Regions from separate parts of the Homo sapiens genome. Here region 2 is linked to region 1. The links come from fine-mapping of genetic effects on gene expression. A gene starts in region 1. The other region holds a variant in brackets. All regions are shown on one strand. Distances are between the middles of the regions.

Region 1 (8,337 bases):
TCAGTGTCAAGCAACCACTACTGTTTTTTGTTTTTTGTTTTTGTTTTTGTTTTCAGAGTTGTTGAATCTGTCCTATCTTCCTTTCTTTTCCCAGGCTGTCTTCCCAAGTTTAGGCATATGGGTACACACACATGCACAGCTGTATTCAATGTAGGTTTTAGCCTTGTGCCTTAATCAAGTGTTTGAGCTATACACCTATGATTGATATCATATCCTATCTTTGGATTTGAAAAACATGGTTAGACCCCAAGACCTGTCCTATGAGTCTAAGTTGGGTACTGTGGTTTTCTCTTGTTAGTTACCAGCACCAAATCATACCCCCAACCACCACCTCCCACCCCCGTAAAACAAGATTAAAGTTTGTCATCAAGGCTGCAGTTTTTCTATTGTCCAGTAGACGGCACAAAAGATCAAGCCTTCAAATGCTAAACAATTCACCAAGGCTGCTGTGGTTTGAAGTGTATGTGTGTGATCTTCTTTAAAATAGCTAACCAGCCAGCATTGTATCTGTGAAGCAGTGAAGTACCTGAAAACTTAAGATAACTCACTAAAAGTTTTGAAACGTAATGATATAAAAAGGTTTTGCATATGTCAACAAAATGTTGCTTCAGAAAATACACTTTTAAATAACTTCAGAGAAAAATGTTATTTAGAAATTTATCATTTAAAAGTTATCTTTATAGAAATTAAAGTGAGAGAAATTACAGGGCATTTTATTTTTAATTAAAAATAAAGAAAGTATTTGCACCGTGAGACTTGAAGATTCTATAGCGGAACTTTGCATGATGCATCTATGTTTTTTACTACATTTAACATACAACTCAGTCCACAAAATTGAAGGTTGTATTTCAAATGCACTTACACATAAATGCATATATAATAGGTACTTGGGAAGGGGAATAAATTCTCTTGATGAAGTTTTGTGGGATAGCTTTTGGGGGATATTGGAGAATGAGGCCAGTAGAAACAACAGTTGGGACTTTGCCTCTTTCAGAGCAATGCATGACTTTGGCTAATATTTATATTTTACTAAAAGGCTTCTATTTCCTTTTCATTCTGCAGACACTCCTTATGTAGCAGTTTGGGGGGGAGGGTAAAGTGTGGGCTAATAACTCATTTCCCAGTTAATTTTATTAAGAATTTATAGCACTGTTTAGAAAGTTTTAAGACAACCATAAATTTTATTAGGAATACTTTATTAAGCCCTCCATTTAATTAATAAAAGACCTCTATAACTTCTGAAAATGTCAGAGCTAGTAATTATGTTAACCAGTGTAGTTTTTTCCCCCCTAGAGACCAAAGCATTTTAATGATTTGAAATAGAATAGTAAGGAAAGCACCTCCCTCTCACCCCCCATTTTTTTTCCCTAATTTTTGCATCATCCAGTCAGAATATAGTAACTTAGGTATTTTCCCTGCAACCCTTGGAGAGCCTAAGCTGACCTCTAATTGACTTCTGAACTGGACCCAGACATTCTTTGTTTTCTGAAGCAAAATGCAGTAAACAAATCTTTCAGTCCTTATAGCCTGTAATGCTTTAGAGCACTTGATTAACATCCTCCCTAATCCTCTCAGTTAACCCCCTTTGATATCACCTAACCAGGTTTCCCCCTTTAATAGATCTCTCAATAGTTTATTTCACTTTTCTCACAGCCATTCATTAGCTTTGACTTCTTGGTGCCTTTCTCATATCACCTCCAGGCTCTTATCTCCAGCATTCCTCTATTATCTGTACTAGATTTCGAATCTATTTTCTTTAAACTATCTTTCCCTCCCTCCTCTTATTTCTGTTTTTTTGAAATGTCAATGCTAGTGAGGGGGAGAGATGCAGAGGATGAATGTTTTTGAAATACAAACGCCAAGCCTCCACACCACAGGACAACCTAAAAACCAATCACAGCATTTTAAGGGACATCTTAAAGTTTGGTGGCAAATGATAAACCCTTATCATTTTGTGAACACAGCTGCCAAACTCGATTGATTAACAGGCTTTTGTTTATTCTGGGCTGGCAAATACACACACGTTTTACCTTAAGAGGTGCCTCTTTAGTTTCTAAGGGTTTTGGAGCTGACTCATCAGTGTGACCTTTTGGGACAAAAGCCTAATTTAGGATATAGATCTTTCCAGAAGCACAATTCCTTATAGAACATAAAGTCAGGGGAGTTCTCCGAGACGACTTTACCAGCAGCTCAGAGGAGCACTGAGGGCTTGAAATGCCTCCATACAGGAGGGTGTAAACAATAGAGACCAAGGGCCCAGTCTGCCTCCTTTTGTCACCGTTCTCTATCTCTGGAAAGATGCTCTGAGATAAGAAGGATGAGAAGAGAACGGAAGGCCTGAATCGCAAGAGCTAGGGCCAAGTGCCAGAAGTTTTCACCAGGCCAAGTTTTTGCAAAATAAAAGTGCTATTGCCTTAAAAAAGCAAGTATCTGAAATAAGTTAGGAATAGGGGCTGTCAAAAAATGGGCATAAATATTGACAGTAGTTTACTAAGATACCTAGACCTGTCCCTTCATTTGTTTCCTTTTAATAGATGATTAATTGCTGCCCTGCTAAAGGAGTTTTTTTTTTTTTTATGGCTACTATATTGCAACTCTAGACATCCTCTGTGCAATTTCTCTCAGCAAGCCCCAACTGTAATAACTGTTTGCTAATTGTAAAATCCTTATCCAGAATGAGGTTTGGGCAAACAATTTGTACTACTGTAATTACATTGTAAAAGTGTTTAGTCCCTTGATTGTTCAGAATTAATTGTATAAAGGCCTAGAAGTTATATTAGGTTCACAGTTTAAAATGGAAAGACTGTGGGGGGGGGGAGGGGCACTTTTCAAAACTACTGAGTTGATTTTAAGTCCGCAAACTCAAACTATCTCATTCTTTAAGGAAAATTTGTGTGTAGGTAATTTAAAGTACATTTTTAAGGTAATCTGGCACATCATGGTTAAAGCATGCAGTCGTCTAGTCTTCCTCCTGCTTTGAAGATTTTGGTTATGTTTGCAAAGGGTGACTTACCTGAACCTTCTTTTCTCATCTGTGCTAGAAAACAAAAGAAAAAGATTACCGGAAAGCAACAATACAAAATAAATCCTGTTGTCAAATATATATATATATATATATACTGACCTTTTCCAAATTTGAAAACGTGGCCGCAGAGTTGTGGTAAATCCAAGCCCCGTTACCTCTTTGCCGAAGAACCCCTGAGGCTGTTAAAGACCACAGTCCTCTAAGCGTATTTCGCAATAAATTTCTCTCAGTTAAATTATACTTACACAATTTCCCTCGCAGTTCATTTAAGGATCATAAACGTAGGTGTGCCCTGTCGGTGTTTGGTTTGACCCCCACCTCCCACCCACGCATCTCCCTCCTACCCCCGAGTCGCGCAGATGCCTGGCGGGCCTGATGCGGGGACGATGATCACACCCCCGCGAGCAGCCATCGGAAGGCGCTCAGGTATACCCCGAAGTCGGCTGGGGTTCCGGGAAGGGGTCGCAGACTGCCGGCCCAGCTTAGTCCTTTCCCTAATCGGAAAAGGAGCGTGCTGCCTGGCCCAGCCAGCGCAGCCTCCCAAGGATTAAACAGAAATCGCCTTCCTGAGACGGGGAGGTTCCATCTTGGCCTGAAATTCTGCTTCCAAGTTCATGTTGTGGGGCCGGGGAGCGACGGTGAGGCGTGGGGTGGGGGGGTGGGGGGATGGGGGGAGGCCGGGAAGTGTAGGCAGAGGCATAAAGGCGCTGGTAATGCACCTGGCTGCCCACCCACTCCGTCCCCAGCTTTTACTCGCGGGCCTGTCTTAACCTCCCAAGTGATGTTTCAGGGCGTTTGTACCAGAAAACCTACACATGTATGTGATGGAAAAAAACTAAAAGATCCTGAAACTTAAGCGTCAGAAAAAAGACAGGGAGAAACAGAGAGAAAAAGGAGAGAGGAAGCAAATGATAAGGGATCCTGGAGATGGTTTAAACACACACACACACACACACACACACACACACACACACACACACACACACACACGAGGGAGAGCTCTTTCAAGGCAAAGCGCTTCTGAAGGTTTTGGGAGAACGTGTGTCAGCCCTTCAGGCACACAGGGTGCCAGTACGGAGTTGGGGGCGGGGAAGGGTGCAGTGCAGGCGGCTGGGAAGGCTCATCTGCTCGGCTTTATGGAAACGCTCCACTGTTGGGGGCAACCAACCCCGCGTTGACTCCTGCGAAGTGCTAAAGGAAGCGATAGATGTCGCCTAAGGAGACTACGGACGCTCGGTGGAACCTCATTCCAGACCTATGTTCTCATGCTCGCCCTGTGTCTCCTGCTCCTCGGAAGCCCACTCTATAGAATCTTCAGTCCTACCTCGCAGACGGACGCAAATTATCTTTTACTTTGCGCTTAAGAGTTGGCTTCAATACATTTTAGAGCTCCTAACCTTTCCCAAACAATCTTCGGATGAAGGGATACCCCCAATCTTGCTCAAAACTCTTTCCCTACCTACACCCCCTTGAGGGTGAGGGTTCAGTCCGCAGCTGGCGAGTGGGACGTGGGTGGGGGCGATGGAGGCGCGGGCGGGCTGCTTGGAGGGAGTCAGCCTTTTGGCCACCTTCAGGGCGGGAATAGGGACTGGCAGTTCGCATTCCCCGCAGATCGAAGCTCCCTGCTGATCGATTATTTGATAATTGATTTTCCCCGCAGCCAATGCGCGGCGGCCTGGGCGGGGGCGCCTCCTGATTGGCCGAGCACTCCTCCACGGCTGCCTACCGAGATTTGGGTGAGCTCATTTTCCAGTCGACCGCAGGGGGAGTTTTCTGCGAGGTTTCAGCTGGAGGGAGGGGGAAAAATCCTCTCGGAGCCGAGCGAGCTGCGAGCCCTGCTTGTGGATGTGAGGTTTCCAGCCACTGGTAGAGCTGCTGCGGCTGAGCCATCTCGGCAGATCAGAGCCCAGCGGACAGAAATATAAATACGAAAATAACGCCACTAAATATAATCACAAGGGAGAAGCTTAGAGCGGGAGAATAAAGAGAAGGGGTGAGGGGGAATTAAAGCCCAGGCAATAGGTGTTAAAGTTAAAAACAAAACAAAACAAAAAACAGTGGTTGGTTGGAGCCTCCGAGTTGTAGGTACAGGCAGCTTTTGTCTGAAATCTCAGCTTCCGAAGCGGATTTCTTTTTCTCTGGCACTGGGAGGTTTCGCCGAGCCGGGTTGGGGACGGGAAAGAGGAGCGCGGGGAAGGATGTCTGGGGTGGTGAGGGCAGGGCTTCGCTGGAGAAAGAGCTAGTGGGGCGCGAGGTTCTTACAGGCCCGGGAGAGGTCGAGGCTGGAGCCCCTCGGCGCCTCTAAGACAAAGGCAGCGGTGGCTGCAGCCGGAGCCTAGCACTCCGGCAGCGTCGCGCCGCGCCGCGCCGCGCCCTGGGCGCACGGCCGCCTCACCCCGAGCGGGTCGGAGAAAGAGCCTCCCTCCCAGCGGCTCCCCGGCCCCGGCTCCGCCCGCGAGGTCTGGGCTGCTGCGAGCCCGCGCCGGGTTTCGCTTTCCGACGATCATAAATAGCTTGGTGTTTGTAAACAGGCGCTGGGGGCACATTCCCCGCGCTCAGCTCATTGTTCCCTCCCTTCCTCTCTACTTCGCGCAGGACGCCTGGGCTGGGGCTGGGAGCCGCCGGGGCTAGGAGGTGGGGGAGTCCAGACCCGAAGTGACAAAATGCTAGCATTTTCTTTCCCCCGGCCGGGCGTCCACCTCTAACAGCAAAGAAACCTCTAAGCTGGGTCTGCAGAAAGCCCGAGCCACCTCAACCCCATGTTCTCAGGACTCCTTAGCAGAGGCTTTCCCAACCTGGCTTCTCCCTCCTTTTCCTCCACGATCCCGCTTTGACTTTTCTCCTTGCAGTGTTTAGTTCTGAGAATTCAGTACTTTGCGCATCACCCCCTGCCCCGAAAAACACTGGCAGACCCCAATAATTTCGAGGAAAGTCATGAAGTCTATGCGCGGAGCCCTGTGCAAAATAACTCCCGCTGCTGCCTGCCCGGCGTTGATTCCCAATTTATTTCAAGAGAGTCGGCTTTGGGGAGAGAGTCTGCAGGGGGAGGGAGAGAAAAGAATACTGAAAATAAAGCTGGCGGCCGCGGGCTACTGCCTGCGTTTGTGTGCGTGTGCCCTGGGTGTGTGGTGTTTGTGCCTGGGCGTGCGATTTAATGGAGCGCCTCTCTGCCTCTCCAGTGCGGCCAGAGCTCGCTTCGCGCACCCACCCCTGCCGAGGAGCCTACTTGCTGCAGCCCAATGCATTGTGTAAGACGCGACCTGTTATGGCCACCACTACTTCCGGGTTCTAGCATTCTGGTCGGAATCCACCTCTCCGCCTGTGCAACACACACTTTACACACGCACGGGGACTGCAAGCGGGCAGCATCGATCGTGGCTCCTTTAAGACAAACTCAGACAGACATTTTTTTTAACCCTCCTTCTCTAATCTCCTTCCAGTGCAGCACTTGCAAAGAGGGAGAGAGAGGGAGAGAAAGAAAGAGAGAGAGAGAAGAGAGAAACTGATTAGGAATTAGGACTGATTCAAGGGAAGCGAGCGCTAGGGCTTTGTGCATTTGAATATTAACATTTGAGGTGTTCTGACCAGAAGAAGACAGAGCGGATGATCATTCATTCACCACGTTGACAACCTCGCCTGTGATTGACAGCTGGAGTGGCAGAAAGCCATGAGATTTGGTAGTTGGGTCTGAGGGGCGCTCTTTTTTTTCCTTTTCTTTCTTTCTTTCTTTTTTTTTTTTTAAACTGATTTTTGGGGGAGAGAAGATCTGCTTTTTTTTGCCCCCGCTGCTGTCTTGGAAACGGAGCGCTTTTATGCTCAGTGACTCGGGCGCTTTGCTTCAGGTCCCGTAGACCGAAGATCTGGGACCAGTAGCTCACGTTGCTGGAGACGTTAAGGGATTTTTCGTCGTGCTTTTTTTTTTTTTTTTTTTTTTTTCCGGGGGAGTTTGAATATTTGTTTCTTTTCACACTGGCCTTAAAGAGGATATATTAGAAGTTGAAGTAGGAAGGGAGCCAGAGAGGCCGATGGCGCAAAGGGTACGTATTAAAAAACAATTGTGGAACTCAAATGTGAGATTAAATTGAAACGTGGCCGAAAGACACTGCTAAAAAGTTTCCTTTTTTTCTCTCTCTCTTTTAAAAAATGAGGCTCCTAAAGCCGTGGCCTAAGCGAGAGGATTTATTCAATGCATTTGTAGACTTATGTATGTTACTTGGAGTTGTTAATTAAAGGAATCTATTTATCTATAGATTCCTAACCAGCAGCTATATAAATAAAAATGCAAGCTCAAACAATCATCTGGGTTTTTTTTTAAAAAAGCTAGATACCTAAAGCTGTAATTTGAACATTCAGAGATCAGAAGTTTAAAGTTATGTTTAAACTAAAATATGCAGCTGGAAACTTCTGATATGTTATTGATTATGCTCATCTTTAATATCACTAGAAGTATTCAGCTTTTTAAAGGAAATAACTTTGTCATAGTATAGCCAATTTTTTGGTCAGAAAACATTCATCTTTTTATAGTAATTTCAATTTGTATAGACTTGTATACAAGGCAATATTTTGCAAGTTTCTCTTAGATAAGCCCTCTACTAATTGAATACTAAGCACACAGTTACTCACTTTAAAAATGCAATACTAATTTCCCCATATTCCTTTTTCAATGGAAATGCAGTGAGAGTAAAGTGAGACAATGACAACCCAACTGAGGTAGTTTCTTAAAAGAAAGGGGGTCTACAAAAAGCCTTCCTTGCATAATTTGTGTCCTGGCCCTCAAAGCCCTGTTTGCAAAAGAAAGTTACTAGGCTGACACAGTTTTCTTTACTCCTTTGGTTCAGGCAAATGTCAGCGTTCTTCCAAACTCTTTTCACACCTCTGGCTTTAAGGAGATGAAAGTGGCAATTCCTCCTTTCTTTGAAAATCATTTCACTCTCAGCGCCTCCAAATCTTGGGAAAATAACTGCCTGGAATGAACCAATTAGAAAAACCTAAATAGCTAAATTTCACACACACAAAATAATGACAATCAATATGAAAGTAGTTTTTTTTTTTTTTTTCTGGAAGAGGAAGATGGAAAGTTGTGCATTTGCTTTTGAATTTGCTTTAAACCTGGTGAGTAACATTTGCCTCCTTGACTTCTAGTCTGGAAACAAAGTTCATAAGAGTAAATAAGAAAATAGAATATTAGCTGCTTCAACTATAGATTTTCTTTAACTTTGGGGGTGGGGAATTGCCCAATTCTAAATTCAGCTCTGATGTTCAGGAAAAGCTACCCTCCTTTGAGTTTCACTTATAAGGGGTCAGTTAGTTTT
Region 2 (8,337 bases), 44 kb after region 1:
AAAGAGTTTAGAATTATAATCTCTCCTGCAGATGAGCCAAAATATTATCATGAGTTGTGTTTAAGCGGGGGATGGGAATGTAAATTTATACATTCTAGTCAAGTCATCAAAAATAGATTAAGCACTTACTGTGTGCCAGGTACTCTGTGTGAGCTATAAAAATGAGTAGGTCATAGTATTTGCCCTTAGGAAGTTCCTGTGTGCTACCAAGAACATCAAGCATATCAAAGTAAAATATTTGCTAAATATTGGATATTCTTAGGGAGCCGTGAGTGTATTTATTTCACAACATGCCAATGACCCAGACATGGTGAACTCCGTGGTCAGGCCTGCTGGATGAAACACAGCGTGGTGGGTATTAGGTTCAAATTGCAGAGGGACAGCACTACCTTGGTAGGTGTAGACGTTCAGCATCTATGGGGCCCTGTTAGGTGGACTTGGCTCCAGAGCCCACTCTTGGAAACTTGGTCCAGTCCTTCCACACTGCCATGAGCCAGCCAGTGCCTCTGCTGTCTGAACCATTGGGGTCATCATTGTGTTCACCGCCATTAGTCACCTGGCTGCTGACTCAGATTGATCTTCTTCAAGGGAATCTTGACATTTTGAGGAGGAGAGGACCCCTTTGGCAGTCTGGTGAAGCCAATGGATACCTTATCAGAGTAATATATTTATTAATGTATCAAATAAAACCCACAGGACTACAAGGGCAGTGAATTGTATTAAAATTCAATCTTCTAAATATTTTTTAAAGCCAAGTTGTAATATAGTAATATAAGGCCGGGCGCGGTGGCTCATGCCTGTAATCCCAGCACTTTGGGACGCCAAGGTGGGCGGATCACCTGAGGTCAGGAGTTCAAAACCAGCCTGACCAACATTGAGAAACCCCATCTCTACTAAAAATACAAAATTAGCCGGGTATAGTGGTGCGTGCCTGTAATCCCAGCTAGTTGGGAGGCTGAGGCAGGAGAATCGCTTGAATCTGGAAGGCAGAGGTTGCGGTGAGCCGAGATTGTGCCATTGCACTCCAGCCTGGGTAACAAGAGTGAGACTCCATGTCAAAAAAAAAAAAAAAAAAAATATATATATATATATATATAGTAATATAAGTGCTCTGTTAAATAGGCTTAAATAACAAGATCTACTAGTAATTCTGTTGTCTGCTGAATTTTTGAAGTAGTGATAAATGTAAGTCATGTTTTAAGATATTTATAACAACTATATTGTGATATGCAAATATGATTTCCGTTGGGAACAAAGTTACAGGTCCTGCTAATAGTTCTGTGGTTTGTTACTTACTTACATACAAGCATGAAGGAAATGCTAATTCTAATTGAAGTTATTGATAATAAAAATGTAATTTTTTCCCCTTCTCAAGTACATATATCCCCTGAATTCTAACCATGGATCTCCCTTGAGGAGGTGTCTATATAGCCCAGGTTAACAACTTCTAAACTTAAGTGTCAGAAGTTAAATAAATGGGTTTGGGGATGTATAGCCATCCCTTGGTATCCCCCAGGGATTGGTTCCAGGACCCTCTCCCCTCAACCCCGCAGACAACAAAATCTTCAGATGCTCAATTCCCTGCTATTAAATGGCATAGTATTTGCATATAACCTATGCACATCCTCCCATATACTTTAAATAATCTCTAGATTACTTATAATACCTGGTACAATGTACATGCTTTGCAAATAGTTGTTATACTGTATTGTTTAGAAAATAATGACAAGAAAAAAGTCTGTACATGTTCAGTACATATGCAATCATCCATTTTTTTTTTCAAATACCTTCTATCCTCAGTTGGTTGAATACGTGGATGTAGAACACATGCATATGGAGGTCTTGACCTTAAATCATGCCATCCACCTAATCACTTGTTCTCCGTACTCCTACCCTGGGACATCACCCTCTGCCCCGCAGTGAGCATCTAACAGAAGATGGGTGGATGCCAGGAGCAGCATCTGAGGATCTTTTGAGGGATTATAGGGCTGAGGTGAGACTGAATTCTGAGACAGGACCCTGTAGCAAGGGTAACTATGCTACCCTGGGAGGATGTTTTTATGTCCTATGCCCTTCCCAGTAGCAGCCATGATTCTACCTGCCCTGGGCTGTGATATTTAGCTCTCCCCCTGATGTTATTTCTCTTTATCATGGGTGATAGCACTAATTAAGAATAGTAGTAGAGGCTTTGGCTGTTGGCCTAGCAAAAACTAACCCAAACAGTAAATTTATGCCAAGCATTTTCCTCAGGAAAAAAAAAATGTAGGCATGGTCTACCTGTTGTATTGATTAGTCCCAGAAATGTAGTTGGTAAAGTTGGGTTTTGCTCAAGTGTCTGGCTTTGTGGATTAGCTCAGTCTTGCATATAGTTTTCCATAATTGCTTAACCTAAAAGCATTCTATTTGATTAGTACAATTAGTTTGGCTTTCTCCCTCTTACCAATATCAATTCATATGCATTCCCTCCTAACGTTGCTCACTTTATTTTGTAACAAAGAATGAAGACAGCAGAACTTCCTGTTACTTATTTCCATATTAGAAGAAAAGGAGAATATGACCTTACGTAGCAAAGCTTACATTTTTAAAAAATGTATATTTTTAAGAAAAAGAGAACTACAGAGTGAATGCAGAAAATATTGAATTTGCCAATGGGCTTGTTGCTAGGTTATTAGCATTTACTGTTGTAGTTTGACTCTTTCCTTGAGTGCCCCTACTACTTATGACAGCCAGGACAGCTAGCACCTTGACACCCTTTTATACTTTAATACCTTGGGAGAAAAGGATATATTGATTTTAAAATGCATATATATATACACATATATATATATAAATATATGAATATAAATATCATTTATAAATATAAAATATAAATATGCACACCTATATAAATAAATATGTATATTTATAAAAATATTTATAAATATGTTATTTATAAAATAAATATATAATATATTATATATAAAAATATAAAATAAATTTATATATTTATTTAATAAATAACATATTTATATATTGTATATATTTATATATGCATAAATATAAATATGTATATATATTCTCCCTCTCATTCTAAGAAAGGATTTAAGGAAATTAATAAAAGTTTATAGTATACAATAGGATAAAAAATGTGTAGATGAACGAATTAGAATGAAAGCAAAATAAACAAAAAGCCAAGAAATAAGGGTAGTACCAAGCAATATAAATTATAAGATCATGTACAATGACTAGAAATAGGTATTAATTTGGCCCTGAGCTTCCTAGCAGCTAAAACAAAGACTGAAATATAATTAATTACAAGATTTACAACATCCATGGAAGTTGCTCAGAAGAATCGATTTGACCAGCATTAAGATCTGAAAGAAATTCTCCTCGTATCCTCACACAGGGAGTCCAGGGAGATGGCAGAGGCTGGCATCCTTGACAGCATCTGTAGGACTCCTCTTACATTCCCCAGCTCCTAGAACAATGCTGCAGTTATAATAATTGTTGATACATATTTGATTGATTGGACTAGGTATCTGTAATCATATTCATCCTTTTGTTTCTTTAACTCATTGGAATCTGAGTCTTGATTTTCATGGTTGAAATGAATGACAGCCTATTTTGATGTGAGCCAAGGTGCTGAGTATTTGGTGATGCCATGAGGCCTTTCTTCTCTTGTCTGTCTCCTTCTTCTGACCATTCTCTGGTGGGTTCGCCTCATTCTCCAGTCTTTTCTCCCTCCATCTGAAGTCAGGAATGGGGTTGAGGATGCTGTTGTTACTCTGGTTATTATCCCCAGGAACAGGGTTAATGGAACCAGAGAGATTCAGGTAAACAATGGTTAGAATGGAGATGCTGAGAGGCTAAGATGGGATGCCAGAATGGAAGGTTCTGATGCTGCAGTCCTTAAAAATGAAAGTTCTGAGGGAATATGACTTCAGCCTATAAAGCTGGAGGGGGCTGAGTGTTATGAATATTTGGCTTACCTCATCCTGGCACCAAAAACATCCCCTCAGGTAAAAGGAATACATTTACTACAAATAAAAGTATTGCTTGATGTACATTTTAAGCATATGAGAGGATTACTCCCAAAGATAGAAGTGAAAAGAGAAATATTCCCATTTATTAACTGAATTAATTAAATGTCCACTGCATACCGGTCCTCTGCTAAATGTGGGAATTCAGAGTGAAAGAGGTCATTTCTGGAATCAAGAAACTGACAGTCTGGTGGAGGAACAGACAGTTTAGTATATCATAGGTTAAGTCTC[C/A]CTAGTGAGCAGGTTCTGAGTAATTTGGAAGTAGAGGAATGGTACCTAACAAACTGGCACAGGGGCAGCACCTGCCTGGCATCGGATGGGCCTCTCTCTAGCCTTTCCATGGTGGCCATTTTTAATGGATCACAGCACCCTTGTCACGGGGCCTGAAAGGAGTGCAGATGCAGGTCCTTCTCCACACAGTGCTCCAGCAACCACTACCTCGTCCCCCGGAGTTAGCCCTAGAAGAAATTGGTTTTCTATTTCTGATCTCCCACTCAGTCTCCTAAGAGAGCAAGTCTATGATGGAAACTTGGGAGAGATGGAGAAGAGGGGCATGTAAGGAAAAAAAAAATTAGCTTGTGTAAAGGTAGGAAGGAGAGAGAGCATGCCACTTTGGGGACTTTGTGTGTGCTTCAGCATGAGTAGAGAGTGGGTGTGAGAGAGGAAGAGTCTGAGGTAAGGCCCAAGAGGTAACAGGGGCAAGACCACAGAGGGTCATATTTGTCATCTTAAGCCCATATTTGTCATTCTGGCATTGGTTTAGCAGGCAGTAGGGAGTCATTGGAAATGTGAGGGTTGTGGCGTGGTTGGATGGAAGTGAAGGAGGAATTGGAGCAGGGGGAGGCTGGAGTCAGCATGATAGTTATTCAGAAATGTTGCAGAACTTTACTTAGGCAGAGGGAGGAGGCTAGAGAGAGTAGCTTTGAGGAGGAAGACTGGACTGGACAGAGAAACAGTGGACGCAGAGGGTAGTGGAGTGCAAAGGCTCTGGGATGATGCCAAGGTTTCAGAAGACTGACTACACAGACTACAGGTCCCACTGGCATGCTCTTTCTTTGTCTTCTTTTGAATGTAGCTTTGCCACTCTAGATGGGAGAAAATGCAGCTGGTCATTGATGGCTGTGGCTTTTCTCCTACACCCTTGCTGGGCAGAGGTGATGCTTTTCCCACCTGTTCCTGAGGATGGCTTGCAGAAATCCTGCTAATTCTCTCTGCTGCACTGCTTTCCCTCAAAGAAGGCTCCGGCTCCGTGGAGACCAGGGGCTGGGTGGAAAGGAAGAGGCCAGCCAAGCTGTCATGGGAATTTGGTGACTCATTTCATCAGTTTACTGCTCTGAAAATGAGGTGACTTCCCCCTTTGCTTGACAACTGATTGATGAACATTTCCTGAGTATTTGCAGAATAGATGTTTTGCCTCATGGGCCTTCATGTTTATGTGCTCCCAGTGGATTCTAATCCTGGTGTGCTTCAGCCTTTCCCACTTCTCAGCTGCTAATTTTTCTTTCTATGTAGAGTCTTCAGATTACCTGCCCAAGACTTAATAGAATGCAGGATTAGAAACAGTATACCGTTATGCCTGCTGATACAACTCTGGTTACGTTGACTTTTTGCCAGAATGTTAAAGAATGAAGGATACCTTTTTACACTGAAACAGTATTTATTTGGCTAAAAACACTGTCACCTGGTACTTAGTGTGTCTACATTGAAAGCTGTCTTTCAAAGTAGCGTACTTCATTTTGTGTGTCTAGAATTTCTTGTTTTGTTTTTAGTTTTTACTTTCTTCCCCAAGATGTGGGTTTATGTGTTTTTAGAAGAATTAGCTTTACTTTGTTTCCATTTTTCCTGATGCTCTTGATAGTGAAGGAATCAGCTTTGGAAAACATTAATTGCTCCACTAAATAATGGAATCTTAATACAAGTTACATAGCGAGAAGTGGAAGCATTGCTTTTAGGCCCCAAGAATAGACCTTAGGCTCATTTTCCATAACTGAAATGGAAGCAATAGGTTTGCATTATGTGGATCAGAGTCATCATCTTAGACACTAGCCATAGTCCGTAGATTTAATTTTCATATTTCAAATGGAGGCTGTAAGTTTAACATGTCTTACTTTGCAGCTGGAACAGATTCTATTTTTAATCCGTAAGTTGCATATGGCATGGAGCCATGTGCTGCCCAGATCCAAATGCATAACTCCTGTTGATATCAGTGAGCTTCATGATGAATTGGAAAGAACTATGTGGTCTTTGTTCCAAACATCTATCTGACTTTTTAGGATTAAACGTGCTAAACAAATTCTAGCACTTTTCAAGTTCAAATGGAGTGTTTTTGAATGTAGCAACCATGCTGGCTTAAAGGAATAATGCAACAATTCCAAATAGACACACGCACACATAACCGTAGAATTGGTTTTCAGGCAGAGAAAGGCAACTGGGCTCAGGAACCTGGCTGGCATAGTAAAGGACATGGTTGTATTGAGCTACACAAAATTGCCTTTAAATAGAAAAGATAAGAGGAGAAAGCCTTTTCTTTGGATGGTACTCTGCTCATCAGGGTACACATTATTGTTGGTGAGTAACTCTAGCAAGAGCCCTCTTGTACTTCCTCATTCTTATGACCGCAATGGTGGGAATTGTCTGGCAATATTCATTCAGAACTGACAGATGTTTGCATCTATAAATAAATGTACTCAAATCATAATTGTTATAACAAGATTGTTTGATTACCTGGCAATGGCCTTGTGCTGAGATAGCTTTTGGATCACCTGTTCTTTGGGAACATTTGACAGACCTCATGTTTATTACCCAATTGGATGTCAGTAGCAATTGCAGCTAAAGAAAAAACAAAAATGCAAGTACTTGTTGACCTTGACTTTTTTCCACAAGAGATTGGACTTGATGGCTCTATTGCAGTTGAGCTGATAAGGGCTATAAACAGTAGTTTAAAGAAAATGTTTTATTCCCAGAGGAAAACACCCTATTTGCTGTGGGAAATGGCAATAGACATATACGCCTTTTGCCAGATTTTCTTAATTTACCTTTATTTGGGCTGTGGGAAAAGGATATGCTGGAAAAGCTTTTTATGGCTTTAATGTACATTTGCATAGATTGTTATAATTTGTGAATGGTGTAGTTAGTATATTGAATACAATTTAAAAGAAGCCAATGATGTTTCTATGATTTATGATAATATGATTTTTTTGAAACTGTCATGTTAGTATAAGATTGTGTTTCAGAGATGAAGATCTTATAAAAATGCAATAGACTTATGGTGCCAAAATGCTCTTTTTGATTTTAATTAAAAACATAAAAGTGTCATTGGTTAATATGATCTCACTAGGAGCAAAGAAAGAAAATTGATCCAGTGAATATTTACATGGGACATTCCAGAAATGCACTGGGGGATAAGGCAATCAGCACTTTTCTTTAGGCACAAAGTCTTAAGCTCCAGATTTGAATCAAGAAGCCCCGGGCCATGAAGGATTCCCCATTTCTTGGTGAGACAGTAAGGCTCGGTAACCTGCCCTATTTGCTCTTTAAAAATCTCACTGCATTTTCCTTCAGAGGAGAGGTGCTTTGGCTCAATGCCACTGACTTCAACTTTTGCTCTTAAAATGTTGTTTTGATGCATAGTGTAGTGATGGCTGAATTGATTTCTGTGCATAAACGGTGGCCTAGATTCTTGCCCTGTGGAAATCCATGGAATTAAGAACTCTAGGTTCCTGGAGTGATAAGAGGTAAGCAAATGATTAGATATGCATGCAGGGAAAAAATTCAAATGCTCATAGAATAGAAATAAGGGTCTATATAATTTGCAAGTTTAATGTAAATGCAAGCCACTAATACAACCAATAATTTAATGCTAATATGTGAGGATAAGTAAATGTTATTCTAATTATTTCCTATTTGGTGTGTTCTCAAAGAGTTCTGAGCAAAAAATATACTGCATTGAAATATTTCCCTGGCTACTCAGGATGAAAATGTGGTCTACTAACAGCTGTGGCCATAATGAAACCTCTGGGATACTAGTGACTAAAATTTCTCTTTAGATAGAAGTTTGGGACAATTTGAGATGGCAGAATCTAAGCCAGAGTTTCTTTCAAGGAGATTTAGCACACTGGGATATTATGTGATTTATCCAATGAAGGTACAGGCTGAGATCTAGCTCAATATGCCCTTTTAAGTAGTCACTAGAATTATTTAATAATGCAGAATATATTTTTGGTAAAAAGATTTGATCTTTTTGTCTGTTTTTCAAAGTGCAAATTTCCTCCTGAAGATAGACAAGTCTTGGGTACGTTTTTGTGAGAACAGACCCTTT

What was found. PIP is the estimated chance that this variant, and not a neighbour inherited with it, causes the effect.
Region 2: its variant is the best candidate, but not a certain one, in a credible set for the expression of MEIS1-AS3 in gastroesophageal junction (GTEx, PIP 0.88).

What each region holds. Positions count from the first base shown.
Region 1 is chr2:66,428,807-66,437,143 of GRCh38, forward strand. It overlaps MEIS1-AS3 (MEIS1 antisense RNA 3), which reads right to left and starts at 4,664. Exons shown (of 4, transcript NR_046438.2): 1 at 4,485-4,664; 2 at 3,125-3,204; 3 at 3,014-3,032. It overlaps MEIS1 (Meis homeobox 1), which reads left to right and starts at 6,319. Exons shown (of 13, transcript NM_002398.3): 1 at 6,319-7,062. The coding sequence starts at 7,051. RefSeq lists enhancers at 4,493-4,845, 5,715-6,591, 6,179-6,278, a silencer at 5,371-5,470 and a promoter at 6,077-6,617.
Region 2 is chr2:66,472,322-66,480,658 of GRCh38, forward strand. All of the region lies in intron 7 of MEIS1 (Meis homeobox 1), which reads left to right. Among named protein-coding and RNA genes, the nearest start is that of MEIS1-AS2, 36 kb to the left of the region's middle. The variant C/A (reference allele first, on the strand shown) is at 4,251.